4 linked regions of the Homo sapiens genome follow. The protein of the gene in region 1 interacts with the protein of each later gene in a pairwise test. Each region holds a gene or a part of one and is shown in the gene's direction. Other genes may lie near its edges. The genes, in order: GDAP1, DDX20, BOK and IQSEC1.

Region 1 (7,052 bases):
AGGGACCCAAAACTTATGGTAGATAGGACGACAGCAAGAGAACAATAGTTTATATAAATCAAGGCTAAGTTATATAAATCGAGGTCAAGAAGAAGTTTATCTCAGAGTACTGAAATTTTAAAAACAGCGTTATCACAATTATAATTAAGATGCTTTATCTTTAAGAACTCATGGAGAATGAAAGTCAGACAAGATAGACAAACATCCTATTGTCAAAGACGGGGAAAAGTGAATTCTACCAACCCTTGCTACTAATTGTATGTTCCATTCATCAGCAGCATTGGTGTCACCTGGGAGCTTGTTAGAACTGCAGAACCTTAGAGCTCTCTGCAGACCTATCAAATTAGAATCTTTGTTTTAACAAGAGCCCCATGTGATTCGTATGTACATTAAAGTTTGAGAATACTGCTATAAATTAGTGTTTAGTTAAGTAAGCACTGGTGTAAATTACTGTCTTTAAATCTGGTGGAAATTTAGAATAGATTGTGAATAGTTATTTAAATATGTTAAAATTTTTGTGTATCTCAGTGAAAGGAACCAATTTAAGTTTTACACTGCTGGAGAATGTCCCTAACACTTCTAAAAAACTGTCTATTATGTGCCAGGCATGGTTCTAGATATAGTATATCTTGATTTAAGTAGAACATTTGCGATTACGTTACATATACCCTTGTGGAATAAAGGAGCAAATATAGCTAGAAGATTGTAACGCACATTTGCAGATGAATAAACTACCATATTAAAGAATATTACTTTATAGATTTCTCATACCAGATTACCTCTTCAACTATAGACTCTCATTTTACTTATAATTGTTTTTATACTTTATTTTAAATGTTTGAATTGTACACCACTGTAAGTACCATGAGGTTGGGAATAGTGTATCTTATGAAAAATTATCCCCAATGCCTTATACAGTGAATGTTTCTTAATAGGTGCTTAATAAATATTTTGAATGATTAAAATGAATAAATTATTGAAACAGATGTTAGCCTGTACAGGGATCCCTTGTAATGTTCTTGTAGGCTTCTTTTTTGACTTGAGCCTAACAAATCAATGATTTGAATAGACATGGAAGAAATACGATTACATTTGTGAATGACAGAAAAGGTAAATAGTCAAAGTGATGACTAGCTTATAAAATATTTCTTATGGAAATACAACAAAATGGAAAAATAAGATAAAGTTTAACAAGGCTAAATGTAAAATGGCTATGAGGAAAATAGGCATGAGACTTTTGTTTTAAAAAACCAGCTGCATTCCAAAAGAATGGGGAACCTGGTTAATAGATAGTAAGTTACCAATGTTAAAACAAATGGCTAGTGTGATTTCAGGTTCTTTGAAAACTGTAAATTTTGTTGAGAACAGGGTGAGTTGTAACCCTCTGCATTCTGAGCTGTTTGGAATAGTTGACATTTTGTCCAATTATGGATGTAACTTTGAGGAATGTTGATGAGATAGAATAAGTGGATGGATTTCATGAGGTGTGCAGTCGCCCATGGTCATGACAGGAGACTGTAAGTGTAGCCATTCCTCTAAAGAACAGAATGTAGTGAACCAGTATGTCCTTCACTGTTATTTGCTGTCCCTTGTTATCGATCCAGTGGGGATTATGCGAAAAACGATGACTTGCTGATCTAGAAACATTTTTCAACTTTTTTGTTTACATTTACATATTTCTATCCTTGTACTTTCGGGATAGTTCATTAAATAATTGGTAGTTTGGTAGCTGAGGTCACCCTTTTCAAGTCATAGCCTGAAATAGTGAATATCTGTTGGATAATGGCTGTATTTGATTTTTTTTTGGAAAGCAGTCATACAGAAGAATGGTATAGACATGAATGATGCTCCTGACTGCCAAACTAAGAGCTGGCCGAGAGCTATCTCTTCATTTATTCTTTAAGTAACCATTTATTGGGTATTAATTTGGTATAGGGTCCTGGGATACTTCAGAGATGTTTTAAAGATCCGAAATCATTAGCAGCTTGCTAGTCTTCAAAGATAATTTCTTTCTATAAGTTTGCTGATAATTCCAAATCTGTCCTTAACATATATACTTGCTATTACTGTACAGTTTTATAGACTCTTTCATGTACATGATACCTCTTTAACTCTGAGCATGTGGTGAGGAATAGTTATTTTACAGCAAGCAATTGATTAAGCTAGATAAGGTATGAGAGTAAGCAAACTAGGTAAACTGAGAAAGAATGGATGTGACAAGGTGAATGTACACACAAATGTGGATTTTTCAATCTATCTATTGTACTCATAACCTCTTTAAATAAAATTTAACTTGGCTACTAATCAAAATTATATGGAATAACTATAAAATACTAGAACATATGTATTACTACCAAATAACTCTGGTAACCTGGAATCAAGAATAATGGATTTTTGTGATTTAATGTAACAGTTCTCTGAACATCACGTTCATGTCTTATGTCTAGATATATAATTTATTCTTAGGAAATAGAATTTAGTTTGGAAATAAACTATTCTAGTATGATATTAAAATCACGTAAATCTTATTAGGATATCTAAATTTATAGATACAATGTTATTTATAAAATACATTTAAATGTTACATTTGAATTTCATCAAATGTAACATTTAAAAAAGAACGTTAATTCTGATGTCACTGTTATATTAAAAATAGTTATTTAAGGAATTACCAATTAATATTTATATTTGTGTTCATCAAGAAAAGGCTCTTGTATATAGTTGAATATAGGCCTTTTAGCACATATACTGAAATTGCAGATTAGCACAAAATGTGGAGAAAATATACCATATGGCATGGAAAAGAATATCAGTCTTTGATTATTGTGTCAGTAAAAGTTGCTTTAAAAAGTAACTTTTCTTCTCTTTGTGATTTGTCCAGTTTTAGCAGACAGGTTGGGGGTATTAAAATTCAGAGGCCCTCTTTCTATATAATATGTATCTAACAATTGGAACAAACTGTCTGATAAAGGAATTTTTGCTTCCATCATTAAAAATGTTTCTGTTAAAAGTCTTAACTGTAATACCAGTTAAAAGTAGTTAAACATTTAATGTATAGTGCATAAAATTTATTGACAATAATGCTATAAATTTGTCTCAAAATCCTGGATGCATACAGTGAACTGATATAATTTGACACCGGGTCTTTTTGTTTTTTTTCTTATCTGTATTTAGATTTGCTCTTTCTAGTTCAAGAGTTATGACAGCACTGAATTGTAATCAATCAGTTTGCTACCATATCTTTTGCCTCAGGTCATAACTTAATTGTTTAATATTATTTAGTGTGTGTGTGTGTGTGTGTGTGTGTGTGTGTTTGTGTGTGTGTATATATATATATATTTTTTTTTTTTTTTTTGAGACGGAGTCTCGCTCTGTCACCAGGCTGGAGTGCAGTGGCGCAATCTCGGCTCCCTGCAACCTCCACCTCCTGGGTTCAAGCGATTCCCCTGCCTCAGCCTCCCGAGTAGCTGGGACTATAGGCGCGCACCACCACGCCCGGCTAATTTTTTGTATTTTAGTAGAGACGGGGTTTCACCATGTTGGCCGGGATGGTCTCTCGATCTCCTGACCTCGTGATCTGCCTGCCTTGGCCTCCCAAAGTGCTGGGATTACAGGCATGAGCCACCGTGCCCAGCCTATTATTGAATTTTTTAAAAATAGCCTAGTGTGTGACTAGTTGAAGGGTACAATATTATTCAGCTGTATTATGCATATTATATACTGATGCAATCACTATACAGTCTAAGTAAAATAAACAGCAAAGGGCTAGAGTGAGGAATGAAATCTAATCTGTTTCCATTGAGCTAGTAGTAAGGGAGACTTGAAAGTTGTACAAGTAGACCTAGGGGAGTCTTTCTTGAAAACAAGGCATAATAATGCCTCCTTTATCTGCCTTTACTAGGAAAGATGGGTAACCAGAGTAGTGAATTTTGTAAAATAATGAAAACTTATGCCTTTAAGCCCCTAATTTCTTTTTATGTTTTACTCTTGGGAAAACCAAATGTAATTTAAAAAAATGGCTCAGAGCCATTGTTATTTTACTCAGCATTACAGGGACTTGAGAATGTAGAGGCCCATTTGTCTCCATTACATGGCTGCAGAATGCTTTTATTGTTTCTTTCTGATTTTATTTTTTGCTTCTTTTGGTTTCCTCTGCTGTTTATCAAATCTTTCTGCTTTATGTCTATCTGCTGGTTTATAATTTGCTGCCTAAATTTATGTGTAATATAAAACTTTTCCCCTACTCAGTTCTTCCGGCAAGTCGGATCTTGTGCCAACTTATTTGTTCTTCTAGCTTAATACCAAGCCTCATTTCCACTGTTGCAATCCCACTCCCCAATGCTGGGACCTCCTCTCATTGCCTGCTTCTTAAAACTCCCTAATTCTCTGTCCTGCCCCGCTATGCCTTATGTTGCTTTCCCACTCCTGATTGAGGTACATTACTGAGAAAAAAATTCTTGCTTTTGGTATTTTGATAAAGGTACTCTACGGAAGAACTGGAAAATAAAATAGGATGGGATTGAGAGGGAAGATCTCCTCTATAATTCAAAGGAAATTCCCAGTTTTCCTTTGAAAAACTCTTTTATCAGAAGCAGCAGATACTGTTGTGCTTCAGTGTGAGGATGGCAGCGCAGTGCCCCTGTGATACTGGAGAGGGCATGCTTGATGCGCACAAAGAAAGAGAGATGGGGAGATAACTTGGGTTCAGTGGGTATCTCATGCTCTGACAGAGTGCTTCAGGAAATGGTTAGACAGTAACGGCACACTGAGTAGAAGAAAATTATTTTCATGGATTTAAACATTTGTCCTCCTTGAAGAATTTGGGCTTGGCCTGATGGATCTTCCCCAGAAAGCAATTAGACATTGTTTTTCCTGCTCTCATTCACTTTCCTAGGAAGGAAATGGTATGCTCTTCTGGAGAGAAGCCCCAGGGCCCAGTACCAGAAAGCAGCCAGAGCCACTAGCCATTACTTGGACCTTTTGGGAAGCATTTGAAAATGTACTATTTAGGGTTATTAGCCTGAGGTTCTTGGACCCCTAAAGCATTAGTTCTTAAACTTTTTGGTCTCTATACCCCTTTGTCTTTGAGGATACCAGAGAGCATTTGTTTATGTGGATCATAGCTATCAATATTTACCATTTAGAAAGCAAAACTGAGAAAACTTAAAATATTAGCCTGGTTAAGCACAATCCCACTAGCTGTCAGAGTGATAGAGTCATGTTTCCTGTAGCCTCTGGAAACTTCTACTGTACACTTGAGAGAGAATAAGAGTGAAAAAGTAATTAACGTCTTAGTATTTCTATAAAAATATCTTTGTAGATCCCCCAAACATGTTTTAGGAAAACCCAGGGATCCTCAGACCATAGTGTGAGAACTGTTGCGCTTAGGGGTTTATGAATAGAATTCAGGAGATTTGAGATCTTGGATAGGGAATAATTGTATCTCTATTTAAAGGAATTATTTCCTTCCATTAGCAATGTAGGCACAATCCATGGCAATATCAGGAGTGCTTCTGGCTTTGATAACCAATAGAACTCACAGATATGTTCATGGTTAAGTTATTGCAGATATCTTAATATTTTGAAATTGTGATAGTTATTAGACCTGACATTTTTTAGGGACAGTTTGACAGCCAGAGATAGGAAGAGATTCTGAAGGGACATAGCCCTGACCTTTGGGTTGCATCCTTCACTTTTATTCTTTTTCGATAGTCTATGAAATGAAAATCCTTTGAAAATGTTATGATGGTATAATCAAAGAGAACATTACATTAGGAATCAGATGACTTTAGTTCTAGCTCTGCCTCTAATTAGCTGTGGGATCTTGGGAGAAATTTTCAGCCCTTGTATCTGAGTGTACATGTTAACTCCTGCAGCACTTCTCCAGCTCAAGTAATCTATATAATAATTGGAAATTTTGGAATGTATTCATTGTAATTTATTAAACACCTACTACATGTCAAACATTATACTAGGCACTGGGGATTTAACAGAGAGCAGTACATGGTCCCTGCCCTCAAGGACTCTACAGTTTGGATTTTAACTAGCAAATAAGGATGTATGTAGAACCCACTTTCCAGAGATAATTGTTAGAAATTCCTGGGGAAAGTGCACCTGCGATATTTGAGCAAAGGCCTTTCCTGTTCCATATAGATTGTCATTCACATTCACATGTGTCAGTAGGGTCACTCTTGATGTTGGTTGGCACCTAGAAAAGAGTAGCCCCTGATTATCTTTCCATAATGAGCCCTCATTCAATTAACCAAACTTTATTGAGGGCCTCAAGTGTGTGGAGAACTGTGCTAGACTCTGGATTGCAGGTTCCTTTCCCTGAAGACAGTCATGGGGAAAAAAGATGCAATGAATTACAGTGTGATAAGGGCTGTAACAGAGTGTGTGTAATGTGTTATGGATGTATAGAAGAAGGCACATGTGAGCCAGTCAGATGTTGGCAGTTGTAGGAGGTTAGGGAATGCTTCATGGAATAAATGGCATAAATAACTGGGCCTTGAGGGCTGAGTGCAGTTTGCAAGGTGAAGAAATGAGAGAATACCAATGTGATTATGGTTTGGGATCTTGTCTGGTGCATCAGGCCATTTCAAACTTTGAATGAATGTCTGAGGTGAGGAGACAGTGTTTTTTGAATATACAGATATGTTGAAAATGTTAATGATGAGTGGATAGTGTTTTTGTTTTGCTTTTGAGTGTAACAACTCATGTGTAACTTTTTCTTCAATATTTGTGTGTGTGTATTTTAGAAAGAACACCCAGGTTAATGCCTGATAAAGAAAGCATGTATTACCCACGGGTACAACATTACCGAGAGCTGCTTGACTCCTTGCCAATGGATGCCTATACACATGGCTGCATTTTACATCCTGAGTTAACTGTGGACTCCATGATCCCGGCTTATGCAACTACAAGGATTCGTAGTATGTAAACATTTTAAAGACCTGGAATTCTGTCTGACACTTTCTTTTAATTCATTTTGAGACCTAGCATGTCTCATGGTCACTAAAAGAAGATTGGGAATAGGGTTGTTGAGTTTGCTT
Region 2 (2,600 bases), on another chromosome or scaffold:
ATGGCTTCCTCTAGAAATAATTCTGTATCTGGACTATCAGTCAAATCAAAAAATAATACCAAACAAAAGCTTCCTGTGAAAAGCCACTCAGAATGTGGAATCATAGAAAAAGCAACGTCACCAAAAGAACTGGGCTGTGACAGGCAATCCGAAGAGCAAATGAAGAATTCTGTTCAGACTCCCGTTGAAAACTCCACCAACAGTCAGCACCAGGTCAAAGAAGCTTTACCTGTGTCACTCCCCCAGATTCCTTGTCTGTCTTCCTTTAAAATCCATCAGCCATACACGTTGACTTTTGCTGAATTGGTAGAGGATTATGAACATTATATTAAAGAGGGGTTAGAGAAACCTGTGGAAATCATCAGGCACTACACAGGCCCTGGGGATCAGACTGTGAATCCTCAAAATGGTTTTGTGAGAAATAAAGTTATTGAACAGAGAGTCCCTGTGTTGGCAAGTAGTAGCCAATCTGGAGACTCTGAGAGTGACAGTGATTCTTACAGCTCAAGAACCTCTTCCCAGAGCAAAGGAAATAAGTCATACTTGGAAGGCTCTTCTGATAATCAGCTGAAAGACTCTGAATCTACGCCTGTGGATGATCGTATTTCTTTGGAACAACCACCAAATGGAAGTGACACCCCCAATCCAGAGAAATATCAAGAATCACCTGGAATCCAGATGAAGACAAGACTTAAAGAGGGGGCTAGCCAGAGAGCTAAGCAGAGCCGGAGAAACCTACCCAGGCGGTCTTCCTTCAGATTGCAGACTGAAGCCCAGGAAGATGATTGGTATGACTGTCATAGGGAAATACGTCTGAGTTTTTCTGATACCTATCAGGATTATGAGGAGTACTGGAGAGCTTACTACAGGGCATGGCAAGAATATTATGCTGCCGCTTCTCATTCATATTATTGGAATGCTCAGAGACATCCAAGTTGGATGGCAGCTTATCACATGAATACCATTTATCTACAAGAAATGATGCATAGTAACCAGTGATTATAGGATATACCTGAGACCATCAGGAACTGTCAACAAATGATACCTTTGGATATCCATCCTCCTCGACTTATAGTACAGTGGTGTATAGTGGCATTTCTGATAAACTTGAAAAGACTTGAGTCTTTCCACTGGGACACATCCATTTTTCAGATTGTTTTGATTTAGGCCAGGTATATTATCTTCATTTTTAAGAGTTTCTTTAAGAAACTTCATCAGATTGTTGAAAGATAATTTTTGGGACATAGAGCTGAAAGTTTCAGGGTGCCATTTTCTATAAGATCTTCCCAAAAGAAACATTTAAAAAGATGACATATACCACCACTTACTTAAAAACAATAAAAGCAATAGATTTGATTAGTAATATTATTGCTGTGGAGTTCTTTACAAAGGGCTTAGGCTGCATTTCCTTCTATAGAGGTGCATTCTTGTAGAAATTTGTAGCATGGTAGATCAGAAAATCCTCTTAGGTTTTAGGCAGGAAGGAATATTTAAACATTGCTTTAGATTTTCCTAAAGGTATTTGATTTGATCTGTTAGCTTCCAGTAAAAATATTTGTTTTTAGTAAAAACAAATTTAAATATATTTACATGTTTGTTGTTTATCTTTTGAATGTCTTTTGAGGCTGTGAAAGCTGTCCACATTTTTGCTGTGTATTAAATAGCTGTGGGTCATCAGTTGCTGTCTTACTTGTGTTGCTCAGATAGAGGAGCAGCTCTTAATCTTTTTTGGTTCTTGGATCCTTTTATGAATCAGCTGATAGCTATAGATTGACTTCAGGAAATTTCTCATTCCATAAGCACAGAATTGTGAGTGTAATTTCAAGGGGTTCATAGACCCTCTGAAGTTCATCTATACAGTCCAGATTAACAAGTGACCTGCTCTGCTGGTAGGCTAGGGGAAGTTCTAGCTCTTAGTTTTAAGTATTTTGTGGAAGCTGGAATTGATTCTCTTCAGACACTTCTTAGTACATCCTAATTTTGTGTCTTCTAGAAAATTTTCCCCAGTTTTTACCTCTAATGTTAGGATCCAAGAGGAGCTTGGATCTGAGCTGATGCATCTGTAAATTACGATTTAGAAAAATATAATTGGAAATTACATATTCTTTGCTTTTTTCCTCTGGAAATCCTTTTATGATTAAGCTTTTGGTTCCCAAGCCTTTCTGTGAACTGGATTTTTTATGAGAGAACCACTTGTGTAGAGAGATGTGTATTCACTTTTTAAAAGGAAAGCTCTTCTTTCCTGTGTACATACTTGTCTAGGTAGTATAAACACTTTCCCCAGGGCTGTCAGCAAACACCCACAGCCATTGTCATTTATTGTCCAACACCTACATAACACAATTCTAAAATCCTACTTAACTTGGATTCCTGTCATTTGGATTGGGCAATATTAGGCTTTTCTTACATGTGTCAGTATGTGAATTAATTAATAATGTAGATAGCAAATCCATAATTAGGTCCAGTATGTCATTAAGAAGTAGAGATTTTAATTACACATTTAAATAAGATCCTGTCATTGATATATAATTGAATTTACTTTTTCCATCCTTTCCCCCACAATACAGCCAAGTTCAGTTTGTCATTGCTGGGGGATTTTA
Region 3 (7,098 bases), on another chromosome or scaffold:
GCAAAGCCTGAACTTGTGAGGTATATACAGGGAGCTGTGGGCTTTATCCTGCAATTACACCAGGACAGTCTGTCTGAGAGTGGAGCCATCACAGGGGAGCACAGATGGAAAGAGACTCCTGGATCCAGCTATGCCTGAAACCAACCGACCTCTCTCTGGTCACACAAATCAACAAACTGCCCTGTGCTTAAGCCAGTCTGGTGGGCTGGTATCAGCGCTCAGAAGCCCACTCACCAACCAGGGACCGAGTTCCATGCTAGGTCAACACTGGGGCAGAGAGAGGAGTCAGTTGCATGGCAAGAGTGGATGTAAGAGTTCTGCAGAGACAGAAAATCAGGGCCAAAGGTGACCGGAGAAATGTAGGCTCCCAAGAAGTCAAAGCACTCTTGGGAAATTGAGGGCTGGGACTGGGCCTCCTCCAGGTCTCAGTGGACAGGAAGACCTCAGCTAACTCCAGCATGACCCAAGTTTTTTAAGGTCTGAATAAGGGTTTGCGGTCTAGGTACTCCAGATTGCTTAATCTCCTCATCTGCTCTCTTTTTAAAATTTGTTTTAGAAACCCGTCTTTGCTAAGTTGCCCAGGCTGAGTGCAGTGGCTATTCACAGGCACTACAGCCCTGAACTCCTGGGCTCAAGCAATCCTCTTGCTTCAGTCTCCCAAGGAGCTGGGACTACTAGTGCGGTGTCACCATGCTGGGCTTGATCTCTTCATAAACACTGAGGTCATTTTTTTTTTTTTTTGAGACAAAGTCTCGTTCTGTTGCCCAGGCTGGAGTGCAGTGGCATGAGCTCGGCTCACCGCAACCTCCGACTCCTGGGTTCAAGCAATTCTCCTGTCTCAGCCTCCCGAGTAGCTGGGATTACAGACATGCGCCACCACGCCTGGCTAATTTTTTGTATTTTTAGTAGAAACGGAGTCTCACCTTGTTGGTCAAGCTGGTCTCGAACTCCTAACCTCAGGTGATCCACATGCCTCAGCCTCCCAAAGTGCTGGGATTACAGGCATGAGCCACCACGCCTGGCACACTTAGGTCATTTTCAGTTCCTTACTGCTAGCAATGTTCCATATTGAACATCCAGAGACACAGCTTTACCTGGTTTCTGCAGCTCCTGGGATGCAGAACATGTCTATCAATTATGCCCAGTGGCCCACTACCCCCATGTCAGAGCCCAGGAGACGGCTCCAACAGGAGACAGGAAGCAGGAAGTATGAGTTCATTCTGCACAGGAGGAAACTGAGCCTGTGAATGGGGCAGGAAGTTGCCTGAGGCTACACAGCGGGAAGGTTGCAGGTGTGAGCTTCCTGGTCTCCTGCCTGCAAGTACAGGCTCTTCCCCTGACAGAGGTACTTCAGGAACCATGGAGTTAGACCCCAAGGTTTACAGTCTGGCCATGCCCAGTCTTGCAGTGACTCCTTGGGCGAGATCTTTTCCCTCTCTGCATTTCTGTAATGCTATCTACAGGGAATCCCAAACCTGACTGCTCTTCAGAAATCTGAGGCGCACACTGTCCAAGGAGCTCTAGACTCTACATTAAAGAGTTCATTAAAATGCACCCTCAGATTTTACTGTACTACAGCTTTTCTGAAAAAGCAGCTAACAATGACTGAGCACTTACTACATGACATGGATTAAGAATTCAGTCCTCCCAGGCTGGGCGCTGTGGCTTACGCCTATAATCCCAGAACTTTGTGATGCCAAGGCAGGTAGATCACGAGGTCAAGAGATCGAGACCATCCTGGCCAACATGGTGAAACCCCCTCTCTACCAAAAATACAAACAATTAGCCGGGCGTGGTGTCAGGTGCCTGTAGTCCCAGCTACTCGGGAGGCTGAGGCAGGAGAATCGCTGGAGCCCAGGAGGCGGGGTTGCAGTGAGCCGAGTTTACGCCATTGCACTCCAGCCTGGCAACAGAGCGAGACTCCGTCTCAAAAAAAAAAAAAAAAAAAAAGAATTCAGTCCTCTCAACAATCCTAGGAGGTAGGTATTATTATTCTTCCTACTTCCCAGACAGGAAAGTCATAGCAGATAGAAGTTCCATAGCTTTCCTAGCTTCTGGTAATGTTCCTGACAGGTTTCGGTATTAAAATTACATTGACCTCATAAAATGAGTTGGGAAATACTCCCTCATTTTTAGTCTCTGTGCAGGTTTGTATGAGACTGGTGGTATTTTTTTAACTGTTGAGAAGAATTTCTCAATGAAACCATCTGAACCTAGAATTTTCTTTGTGGGAAGATTTTAAATTACAGATTCAATGCATTTAATTGGTGTAGGACTATCCAGATTTTCTATTTCTTTTAGTGTCAGTTTTGGTAAGTTGTGTATCATCTAAAATTTCAAATGCACTGTCAAAAAGTCCTCCATACTATCTTTTTATCCCTTTAATGCTTGTAGTATCTACAGTGATGTCCTCTTTTTCATTCTTGATAGTGAAATTTGTGTTATCTTTTTTCTTACTCAATCTTTCTGGGGATTTATCAGTTCTATTAATCTCTTCAAAGAACCAATTTTTGGCTTTGTTGATTTTCTCTATTTTTTGCTTTATTCCATTAATTTCTGCTCTTATTTTTATTATTTCCTTTCATCTTTAGTTTTATTGTTCTTTTCTAGCTTCTTGAGTGGAAGCTTAGAGCAGTAATTTTATTTTTCTTTTTCCTTTTTTTTTTTTTTTTTTGAGATGGAATCACACTCTGTTGTCCAGGCTGGAGTGCAGGTGGGATGATCTCTGCTCACTGCAACCTTCGCCTCCCAGGTTCAAGCAATTCTCCTGCCTCAGCCTCCTTAGTAGCTGGGATTACAGACACCTGCCACCACACCCAACTCATTTTTTGTATCTCTAGTAGAGACGGGGTTTTCACCATTTTGACCCGGCTGGTCTCAAACTCCTGAGCTCAGGTGATCTGCCCACCTAGGCCTCCCAAAATGCTGGGATTACAGGTCTGAGTCATTTCACCTGGCCTAATTTTCAATCCTTCTTCTAAAGCTATCAAATTTCCTCTAAGCAGTGTTTTAGTTGCACTGTACAGCATTTGATATGTCTTATTTTTCACTGTTCTTGTCAACATATTTTAATCTTCCACTGTGATTATTGACCCATTGATTATTTAGAAGTGTGACATGTAATTTCCAAGCATTTGCAGATTTTCCAGTAATTTTTCTGTTATTGACTTTTAATTCAGAGAGGACACACTGTAAGATTTCAATCCGTTGAGATTTGCTGAGACTTGTATAAGGTCCATGATATGGTCTATTTCGATAAACATCCTATGTGCACATGGGAAGAATAAGTATTTTATAGTGTTGTACACACGTGAATTAGGCCAAGTTGGTTAATCCTATTGTTCAAACTGTGTGAGGTTGATTCAAGGATAAAGAAATAAACCAGTGGGATAGAGTTCCGAGACACACACACACACACACACACACTCTTCAGCTGATTTATGTTGAGATGTTGGGGACTCCTCCAATTCGGTGGAAAAAAAATGATGCTTTTCAATAAATGATGCCAGGTCAATTGGATATCTACACGAAAAAAAATGAGCTCTAGCCCCGTACCACACCATTCACAATAATTAATATGTAATCAATCATAGATCTAAATATGAGCCCTAAAACAAGCTTCTAAAAGGAAATACAGGAGGATATCCCAATAAAAAGGTACTAACCATAAAGAAAATATTGATAAATTGGACATCACTAAGAGTAACTCCTGTTCATCCAAAGCAAAAGTAAACCACAAAATAGAGGAAGATATTTGCAATAACTTCAATAAATGCGAATCCAATAATCCATCTACAATACAAAGGGCATGCGTCCGGACCAAGAACACGTCTCCAGACTCTGGAAAGAACCTCTACGAACGAAGAAGACAACCCAATTTTCAAATGGACCCCGGGGAACACCCAGGCGGCTGGGGCTGGCTCTAGGTCCCCACTGCTCTGCCTTGCGGGGGCCGCTCCGGCCTGGTCGCCTTCTCCGGGCGCATCCAGGGAACTCGCTCGGTCCTCCTTAAGCGGGGAAGCTCGGAAAGCGTCTCCCCGACTCCGCCCCCAGGGTTGCCTTTCCCTTAGAAGGCCAAGCCCCAAGCCCAGCCTCTCGCCAGCTGGGAGTCGCGCGCTGCCCACCTCGCTGCCCAGGCCCCCGACGCCGCGGCAGGAGCCCCCCAAGAGCGCGGGAAGCCCCGTGGACCTGGCGCTCCCGGCTCGGGCGTGGACGGGGCGGGCGCCGGGGCGGGGCGCGCGTCCTCGCGGGTCTGAATGGAAGGGTCGAGGTCGTCGTCGGCGGCGAGCAGATCCTGAAGCCAGAACTCCACCCCGGCGCCCGCGCCATGCGGCGGGAGAGGTGAGCGCGGCGGGCGTGGCGTCCGTGCCGGGGTGCCCGGGGTGCCACGGGAACGGCGAGGCCGGGGACACGCGCGCAGGACGCCAGCGGCGGAGGTGGGCGGCCCCGGGCCGGGGCGGGGAGGGCCGGGTCCTGGCAGTCGCCGTGGGGGACGCGCTGGGCTGTGCCCTCCGCCCCCGCCGCCCACGCACTCGTCTTCGAGGGCGGGCCCGGCGGCCCCGGAGCAAACCGCCGTCTCCCCGCGGCCCCACCGGTCCCTGGCAGCCTCGGGGAATGTCTGTAGCTGAATTCGGGCTCTGAAAGAAGGTGGCGCTGGGTTTTTAAAGATTTGGGGCACAAAAAACGAGAGCGGACCCGGCGCCGGCTACGGCCCTTCCCGAGGGCCACGCCCAGCCCGGCGCCCCGCGCGCCCCGTTCCCCGCGCCGCCTCCCTCCACCCGGCTGAGCGCTTGTGCCCGCAGGTGCGGCGCCCCCCACCCGCGTCGCCGCCATGGAGGTGCTGCGGCGCTCCTCGGTCTTCGCCGCCGAGATCATGGACGCCTTTGACCGCTCGCCCACAGACAAGGAGCTGGTGGCCCAGGCCAAGGCGCTGGGCCGGGAGTACGTGCACGCGCGGCTGCTGCGCGCCGGCCTCTCCTGGAGCGCGCCCGAGCGTGCCGCGCCGGTCCCGGGACGCCTGGCTGAGGTGTGCGCGGTGCTGCTGCGCCTGGGTGAGTGCGCCCTGGTGGGATCCCCAGCTGCGCCTCCTCCCCTGCTGGGCCGCAGCCTCCCTCCGAGGCCGAGATGGGGGTCCGGCCCAGGGGCGCCCACCCCCTGCCTGGGACGGCCAGGCGCTCGGGACAGGGCCACCCAGGCGGGTGCTCCCGGATCTGCCCTCTCAGGCCTCCCACGCCACAGGCCCCCCCATCAGCTGCCTGCTCAGCCCAGATTTCAGTCATGCTGGCCATAAACAATAGAAAGCTCCAGAAAGAATAATCTATTAGTGGGTGGCTAAGCTTCCACAGTGACCCTTGTTCTCAGCTGGGCACAGAAACCCTTTGTAGGAGCACGTGTCCCGATGTTTATTTTGGAAAACAGATTCTTGCTGTTACTGGCCGAGATCCCGCCCGCTGCCCTCTGGATTCCGAGGCCTCCGAGGCCCCCCCATTGGAAACTGCGCCCACCGGGCTGGGTAGCCAAAACCTCAGTATTCGTTGGTGCTGTGAGGACATCTGGGGGTGCTCGGTTCTGGGGTCACACACGGTCCACTGGCTGCCCCCACCGTCTCCAAGGTCTGGACCCAAGAGGGAGGGACCAGCCCCACTGTGACTGTCCAGTCCCCTCACCACAGCTGGGCTGTGGCCGTCACCTGGGAATGTTTATGTGATGCCCGAAGAGGGCACATGGGGCGCCTGTGGCTGAGCCCGGGAAGGGGAGGTGACAGCATAGGTGAAACTGAATCGGTGGCTCTCCAGGCAGGGGGTTGGAGTCGGAGGGCACGACCCCGTGAGGGGACACGCTGCCTCCTCTCAGGCTGGCGCTGGCATGGGCTCTAGGTGGCCCCTGCCCTTACGTGGTGGGCTGGGCCCAGAGAGCAAAGCTGTGTAGACCTGGCCTGCCCAGGAGTGTGTGTGGGGTGCAGACAGAATCCATGGGGACCAGCACAGAGCCTCCAGGAGGAGGTGGAGTCCCATCTGAGAAGTTCAGAAGGAGGGAGAGGTCTCTGGGTGGGAGCTAGGGGGTTGGTGGGGCTCCATGAGATCCGCCGCCTGCTGCTGCCTCTAGTCGGGCTCTGAGAATGACCCTAGGGGATCCTTTTAGTGGCCTTCTGAAAAGATGATGCCAGACCCCTGGAATGGCTGGGAAGAAGTCCCAGATGTCTAGGGGGACCCCAGAGGGACACAGCTCAGACCTGCATCTGCCCTCACGGCTGCTCAGGGTCAGTCCCTTGAGGCCAGCGCTGTCTCCCTGCCCTTGGGCAGTGCAGACAGGAAGAAGCCCGGGTTGTGTCCCCACCTTCAGTCTGGGGCCAGCCTGCAGCAGCCCCGGAGATCTGTGTTTGGGAGCTGCCGGGTCAGTCCTGGGAATTTCCATGTCGTCCCCCGCCCCCAGCCAGCCTCTCATGGGCTCTGCTCTGCTTCCAGATCTTAATTAATGAGATACAGAGCAGCCTTTATCAGCTGGGATGGTCCGGTCAGCAGCATTACCCTGTTTGCTTTGGCTGGAGAACTGGCCGGGCTGCGGACTCCCAATCCCAGGGCCCTGTGGCATTCTCGGCACCATCTGCCCCGTGCCTGTGCGCTGCTGCTGCCAAGGGTGCCACAGGCAGCACTGGGGCGGTGGGCCTGTAGGGGCCATCCTCGGCTGCCAGGGGCAGGGCTGATGCAGTGCCACCTCCAAGCACATCCCCTTGGCAGCAAGAGCCCAGGTGGGAGCGTGGCAGTGAGGGTGGCCCAGGACAGCGGCCCAGCCAGCCCAGGTGGGAGCGTGGCAGTGCGGGTGGCCCAGGACAGGGGCCCAGCCAGCCCAGGTGGGAGCGTGGCAGTGCGGGTGGCCCAGGACAGCGGCCCAGCCAGCCCAGGTGGGAGCGTGGCAGTGCGGGTGGCCCAGGACAGGGGCCCAGCCAGCCCAGGTGGGAGCGTGGCAGTGCGGGTGGCCCAGGACAGCGGCCCAGCCAGCCCAGGTGGGAGCGTGGCAGTGCGGGTGGCCCAGGACAGGGGCCCAGCCAGCCCAGGTGGGAGCGTGGCAGTGCGGGTGGCCCAGGACAGCGGCCCAGCC
Region 4 (7,052 bases), on another chromosome or scaffold:
CGGTTTTCAGAGTGGGGAGGAAGAAAGAAGCAGTGTGTGCTTGTGGTTAGGGCAGCCCCGGGTCAGAGCCCAGCCTCCAGCCTCTGCCCATGTGATGTGGGCCAGCAACAGCAACCACTGCAGCACTCCCACCGCTCAGATGCAGAGCTGGGCACGCCCCAGGCGCCCCTCGTTTCCTCACAACAAGCCTGTGCTGTGGGCAAGGTGTTTTAGAGGAGGACACCAAGCATGGTTGAGGCAGTCACTCGCCCATAGTCACACAGCTAGTAAGGGTGAAAGTAGGACGTGGCCCCAGGTCCATCGGAGCCCAAACAAACCCCAGCCTCCCTATACTCCAGCCTCCCCACACGTCAGCCTCAGTCTTCCCATCTGTGGAATGGAGATGATTATACCCACTTCGAAGGGCTGTGGTTAGCATGGAGCAGGGTAGCATTTATAAAGCCCTCTGAAAATGGCTTAGAGGTGGCTCAGCCCCTGACACCCATCGCCTACTAGACCGGGTCGGATGTATTGGGCCCGTTCTGGTAGGAGGACTGAGGAAATTTGTGTTGACTGAAAATGTCCTGTTGCTGTGGGCCTGCCTGGGAGTTCTTTGGTTCTGTTGGGTCTAGTGGAAGGTTCGCTCCTCTGATTTGCTTTAGAAACTGGTAAATCGAGTGAGCCTGGGGCCCACCCTGATATCCAGCTGCATCCCCTACCCAGGTGTGGACGATGGTGAGGACATTCCCCGTGAGATGCTGATGGGGATCTATGAACGGATCCGTAAGCGAGAGCTAAAGACCAATGAGGACCATGTGTCCCAGGTGCAGAAGGTGGAGAAGCTCATTGTGGGGAAAAAGCCGGTATGTGATGGGCCCTGGTACGTGGTGGGCCCCAGCACCACCCGGGCGGGGCTGCCTGCCAGGCCTTCTCACTCCCACCCACCCCACTCCGTGTGGTCTCTTCCAGCAGGGCTGGTGAATTCTGCCAGGGCTTGGGGTTTTTTCGAGTGTCTCCTGTCATATTTGGGAATAACAGCTATTGGCTCTGCGTTACAATCTGAAGAGAGCTGAGGCTCTTAATGATCTAGCAGGCCAGGGTTGTGCAGTGGCTGAGTTCTGGGCACCCGACACTGGCAGGCTTTCCTGGGTGGTCCAGGAGTCCCCTGGGACCCCTCAGAGAGCTCTGCCAGAGAGAGTGGGTACCCCACATACTGGCTGGGTGGATCCCAAGGGTAGGTGTAGGGAGGGGCACTTGCAGCATTGGCCTGGGCGTGGCTTTGAAACATGAACACCCTTTTGTTGGTTTCACATTCTCCCGCAGATCGGATCCCTGCATCCCGGGCTCGGCTGTGTGAGTATTTCTCTGGTTTTACCTTTGTGGGTAGCCCGCCGCCCTGGGGAGGCCCAGCATCAGCCAGTCCGCCGGCTCCCCAGGCTCCCAGAGCCCAAGTGCTGGCTGCTTGAGTTCATTGCTGGGGTGCTGAGAATCAGATGTTCGTAATTACCCCAGCCTCAGATCTCTGCAGGCCCTGAGGCTGTGCTGTCAGGGGAGACTCCTGCTCCCTCTTGTTGACGCCCTGTTGAGCCCAGCCCCCAGACCCTGCGCCTGAAACAGACCCCGGTGTGTCCTCTGAGGCCCTGCCCTGTCCGCTACCTGGCCCTGCTCTGTGCTCTGTCCCCCACATCCCATGCCCCAGGCTCTCCCAGTGCCTGCCTCCTCACCCCCAGGACCCGTCCTCTGCCATAGCTTTGTGGTGTGCCCACACGCCCCAGGACACATGCACACAGGGTGACTGGGCTGCTCACCATGACCCTCCTTGTGGACTGGCTTTGTCCCTCAGTCCTGAAAGCCGCTCTGCCTGCCCTCACCCTCCCCAGCTTCCCCTGCAAGAGACCAGTCCCCTCCCACCTCCAGCCAGTGCTCCCCGAACCCTCCCATCCTCTCTCCTTCATACCTTTGCAACCTAAGCACCCCAGGCTGGGCCACATTTTCCCCCTCATCTTAACCCCCAGATGTGCCAAACTCAGGCAGCCCTGGCCTAGAGCACCCCTGGTAGAGTCAAGCCTCTGGCCTCAGGACGGTGATCCCGGGGATCCCACCCCTTTGACCGCCTCCCCCATCCTGCATGAACCTGGGCACTCCCAGAGCCAGGCCCTGATGGCTCATCCCTCGCCCTGAGGCATTGGGCCTCAAGGGCAGCTGGAGCTATGACCGTGTTGGGAGCTTTCGTGAGCTGTCAGGGGCATGTTCAGGGTAGCTGTGGGGAGCAGAGGACGGGTCCAGGGCAAGTGCCACAGAGTGTTGGCTGCTGGCTCAGGATTTTGGAGAGTCTTTCAGGCATCAGGACCATAGGAATCTTTTATGGGGAGGCTTGGTTGGGTGGGAAAAGTCCTGGGGCCTGGAATTGGATCCTGGCTCTGCCACTTCCTAGTTTTGTCGTTACTTCTGTGCCTCAGTTTTTCCTCATCTAGAGCAGATTCTCTCTGTAAAGACTTTTGCAGGGCTGAGTGGCCTCATGTTTATGACCGGCACTTGTGGGGACTCAAAATGTGACTCGCTGTCTGGCCAGAGGCTCCCAGGTGAACGTGATAGTTTAAGAAGCCTGGTACCTGCCCAAAAGAATGGAAAGGAGGTCTCAGCAGAAGCTGGGGCACGTCCCTAGTCCTTCAGGAGAGCAGAGATACGGGATTTTAAATAGTGGCTCCTGAGAACAGAGTACGGGAAACTGCCATGAGCCAAAAGACGTATCTGCTCTTCAATGTCTGTGAGGGAAGGCATTTTTTAACTCAAGGCCCACGTGCCGGGTTTCTAGCTTGAAGGGCTAGACTTCTCCACTGCGGCCCCCAGGGCTCCTAGAGGAGAGCTGGGCGGCCGTGGCAGGACAGCCTCTTCCCACACAGGTGCTCTCTCTGCCCCACCGTCGGTTGGTCTGCTACTGCCGGCTCTTTGAGGTTCCAGACCCAAACAAGCCCCAGAAACTCGGACTACACCAGCGAGAAATCTTCCTGTTCAACGACCTCCTGGTGGTATGTGGCTCACCCACAAGGCATTGTAGCAGGGACCTCAAGCCTGAGCCCAGGGTCCATGTCTGGCTGTCTGCGTGGGGAAGATGTGCATGCATGTGGGGGTGCAAAAGGGAGGGTTTGCCTGGTGTCTTTCACACTGATGCACATGAAGACAGACTTCATTGGCTCATGCACAGGTCCAGAGGGAGATCTTTGGCTTTAGTACCAGCTGTTTCCAGAGCCTCTGCCAACGTCAGCAGCACTCCTGTGTGCTGTCTGCACCTGTACCTTGTGTGACGCTTCCTCGGGCAGGCCCCTTCCTCAGACAGGCTCTGTCCAGGAAGGGGAAGGTGGCCCCAGCAGCTCCAGACCTGATCCTGTCTGCTGAGCAACTGTAGAATCCTCTTCCTAGACTGAGCAGAGGTTGCAGAGTTAGCGCTTGTCGCTGCACATCCCTCCCTAAGCCTCTCCAGGCCAGGCAGGTGCAGTGCTTTCTGATTGGCTAGGCCTAGGTCCCAAGCCCCACCTCCTGGAGCCCTGAGCTGGTCCCTGCAAGACCTATGGACTGAAGGAAACAAGGGCTGGAGGTTTCCCCAAAAGGAAACTGGGGAGCTCTTGCCAGAAAAAAAGGTGGCATGGATGCTAGCCAGACGGGGGCAGAAGTGCCCACTGCAGAGAGAAGGGAGAGCTTGTCCTTTGGATTTCTGTACCCCTGCATGCCACGGGCTTTCTTGCCAAAGATGCCCATGTTCTTTTTTTTTTTTTTTTTTTTTTTTTTGAGACGGAGTCTCGCTCTGTCGCCCAGGCGGGACTGCGGACTGCAGTGGCGCAATCTCGGCTCACTGCAAGCTCCGCTTCCCGGGTTCACGCCATTCTCCTGCCTCAGCCTCCCGAGTAGCTGGGACTACAGGCCCATGTTCTTGATTGGGTATGAGGACTGGCTAACCCTCTCTGACCACTGATGTTGAAATCAGACGTGTAAGTTCAAATCCTTTATGAAGAACTCCTGACCTTGAGCGAATCCCTTCACATCTCTGAGCCTCAGTTTCCTCCTCTGTAAGATGAATCTCTCAGAAGGTGGCAGGGGTCCAGTGAGGTCCTGGACGTAAGACCTTACATGGTGCCTGGCATGCCCTGGAGACCGGGGAGATGTGAGCTCCCCTCTCCCCTCCCAGCCCAGCCTTTGGCTGCCACACTGGAAAGTTCCTTTCCTACTGTAGACCAGAATAGCAGCCAAGGACCGTGGCGGGCCAGCTGGGATTCAGGGATCACGTCGCTAGCCCAGGGGCCAGTCTCCCTGCAGGCCATCACCAGGCATAGCTTCACACTCTGGTTGTTCCCGAGAAAGGAAGCCATGGCTTCTTACCAAGGTCAGCGCTAGTGAGCACCACCTGTCCATTCCTGCCCCTCAAGGTGCCAAGCCCCGGGTGTGTACACCTCACCTGGCTGTGAGAAGGCACTTGAGGGGGCTCCGTGCTGTGAAGTGCCTACCGCCTCTATGTCAGGTTGTGGGGCTTTGTTGCCAGCCAAGATGGCATCGGGGTTGCGGGGACAGGAACCGTTGTCCGAGTCTTGGAGTGGAAGCCCATGCCCTCCACTCACGTGGGCTTGTCCCTGTCCTCCTGACTTTGAACTCCAGGAGGATCCTCTGACCAGAGGTCCCACATAGTCAGTGCCCCCCGAGACACTGTAGCTCAGCTCTGTCTCTGGCTGCCTCTAGGTCACCAAGATCTTCCAGAAGAAGAAGAACTCGGTGACGTACAGCTTCCGACAGTCCTTCTCCTTGTACGGCATGCAGGTCCTGCTCTTCGAGAACCAGTGTAAGTCTGCCCCCAGGGCCTGCCTGGAAGAGCGCATGTCCCAGCTTACGCTCTTTCTCCTGGCTGCTTCGAGGACAGAACCGCGGGGGGCTTCGACGCTCACCCCTGTTTTATCCCCAGAGAGCAGATTGCAGCTAGGAGCTCCGGTGAGCTGTAGGCACAGACCCTCAAGAGGCCCATCAGTCAGCTGAGCCTCATGTAATAACACTGGACAGACACTCAGTTTGCTTTTACTGGTACTTCGTTTCTTGCAGGTGATAAGATTTTTAAATTTATGGCAGAAATACATTTATGTAAATGTTGATAGAAAAACATTAAGTCATAGGTGATATGCAAACATGGCCCAGAACACAGGTGACAGCAACCCATGAGTGTCCGCGGAAGTGAAGAACTGAGCCCCTCAGCCTGGGTCAGATCCCAGCTCTGGCTCAACTGCTGTGTGGCCTGGCTCTGCAACCCCTCTGGCCTCTGTTGCCTGGGTTGTAAGGTAGTGCCTGCCACAGGGCCCCCATCATAGCTGCCGGAACACAGTGCTTTGCAAGGGTTAATTTTGATGCCCTGCTGGAAGGCCCTGGGTGAGGCCTGGGGACCTGGGAGTTTGGGAGGCTCACACCTGCAGCACCCCACTGGCTTCCATTTTACCTTGCTCCTTTCACTCTCCACGGCTTCTCTTCCCCCTCCTTTGTCCCTTCCCTGTTGGAGGCTGAGCCAGTCCTCCTGGGCTGGGGAGCAGGGGGCCACCTGGAGTGTCCTAGGGAAAGAAGCTGAGTGTCCGTGCTTGAGCAGTAGGGGTCCCTTATCCTCTCAGAACTAGGTGTCACTGTCTGTCTAATCAGCCTTCCATCTGCGGATTAGAACAGTGTCAGGGACCTGCAGCTGGACCATCCAAAACCACAGGCCTTGCGCCTGGATCTGGGGCTCTCTGTCCCCTTCAGTCTTCAGTGGGACCAGGGACAGCCCGGTAGGAGACCCTGCACTCCCTGTATGCCCTGCTCCCCACGTGCCCAACAAGGGGCATGGCATGCCTGCCCTGGCCGCCTCCCCACCTCCTGCCATTCCTGTCCCATCGCAGGCTGCAAGTCATGCCTTGCCTTGGTCCCAGGGGAGGCCAGTGCCATCCCCACATTGTCCTGACCAGCAGTAGCCTGCTCTCTGAGATGGTGGCATTGACCCCTGCTGCCCAGGGCTAGGGTGGGAACTTAGTGAGATCCTGGCAGCAAAGCTCCCAGCAGGGGGCCAGGACCACTGTGGACCATCAGGGCAGAGGCTGCACCTGGATCATGTCTATGGTCCCAGGGCTTGGCCTTAGATCGTGGGTGCCGGGTGCTGGCAAGAGCCAAGCCTGCAGCTTCTATAGGACATGCCGTCATTCCAGGGGTCTCAAACTGACAGCCTGGGAGGCAGGCCCAGCTCAGTTATCTTTTATATGGTTTGCATATTTTTAAAAAGTTTGCTGAGCCAGTCTCTACATCAAAATGTAGATATTTTGGGCCTCTCTGAAAATCAGAAGGTTTGGTGTCACTAGGCACATGTTCCCACGTGGCAGTAATGGGCTGCATATACATACATGTGCACACATATGCACACAGGAGCACTCTGCAGCTGCCCACAGGCCCACCTGGTCTGAGCCAAGGTGGGATTGGTACTTGGTCCAAGAACCTTCAAACATCCAGTGGCTGATGCTCTGCCAGTGACTCCCACTGCCGGAGCAGCACCGCCAGGAGACCAAAGCCCCAGGGACCCTGAGAGCCCGGAGGTGGCACCAGGCAGGTCTGGGCACAGGGTTCCTTGGCTGTGGAGTGCCCATAGTGCACCCCATGGGAGCTGTGGGCCACAGGCCATTCGGGAGAATATGGCGCTCACTGCTGTCCAGAACTGAGATGACTAGAGAAGACTCCCACCTTTCTCAGGACGCAACCTCTGTCCTCCTCCAGGACGCGGCCCCAGCAGCCTCCCCTGAGCTCGACCACTTTTGTCCCTGAGTCACATGTGGAGCGACACAGACCATCTTTCCCAAGTCGGGAGATGAGGTTGCTCTGCACCCCTGCAGCCTGCCACTGCGGAGGCTGGACTCCCGGCACTTATCCCAGGCTCACGCACAACTCAGCCCTACCATTGTTTCCTGACCAGAGAGGAGATTGCAGAGAACACACTGAGACCCGTGGGCCTCCTCCCCTCTCCTTCCCTTTTGCAGACTACCCCAATGGCATCCGGCTCACCTCGTCTGTCCCCGGAGCAGATATCA

The links.
Region 2: the proteins of GDAP1 (region 1) and DDX20 interact in binary tests that used the Homo sapiens proteins (3 or more experiments, as listed by UniProt).
Region 3: the proteins of GDAP1 (region 1) and BOK interact in binary tests that used the Homo sapiens proteins (3 or more experiments, as listed by UniProt).
Region 4: the proteins of GDAP1 (region 1) and IQSEC1 interact in binary tests that used the Homo sapiens proteins (3 or more experiments, as listed by UniProt).

What each region holds. Positions count from the first base shown.
Region 1 is NC_000008.11:74,353,379-74,360,430, forward strand, and holds part of GDAP1 (ganglioside-induced differentiation-associated protein 1), read left to right. Parts: intron 1-6,758; coding exon 6,759-6,932; intron 6,933-7,052. UniProt on the Homo sapiens protein: Regulates the mitochondrial network by promoting mitochondrial fission.
Region 2 is NC_000001.11:111,765,901-111,768,500, forward strand, and holds the end of DDX20 (probable ATP-dependent RNA helicase DDX20), read left to right. Parts: coding exon 1-999; 3' UTR 1,000-2,100; downstream 2,101-2,600.
Region 3 is NC_000002.12:241,554,653-241,561,750, forward strand, and holds the start of BOK (bcl-2-related ovarian killer protein), read left to right. Parts: upstream 1-4,092; 5' UTR 4,093-4,341; exon of another isoform or gene 4,342-4,491; intron 4,492-4,566; exon of another isoform or gene 4,567-4,802; 5' UTR 4,803-4,831; coding exon 4,832-5,051; intron 5,052-5,418; exon of another isoform or gene 5,419-5,612; intron 5,613-7,098.
Region 4 is NC_000003.12:12,909,384-12,916,435, reverse strand, and holds part of IQSEC1 (IQ motif and SEC7 domain-containing protein 1), read left to right. Parts: intron 1-702; coding exon 703-842; intron 843-1,302; coding exon 1,303-1,332; intron 1,333-2,882; coding exon 2,883-3,008; intron 3,009-4,707; coding exon 4,708-4,807; intron 4,808-7,001; coding exon 7,002-7,052. UniProt on the Homo sapiens protein: Guanine nucleotide exchange factor for ARF1 and ARF6. Guanine nucleotide exchange factor activity is enhanced by lipid binding. Accelerates GTP binding by ARFs of all three classes.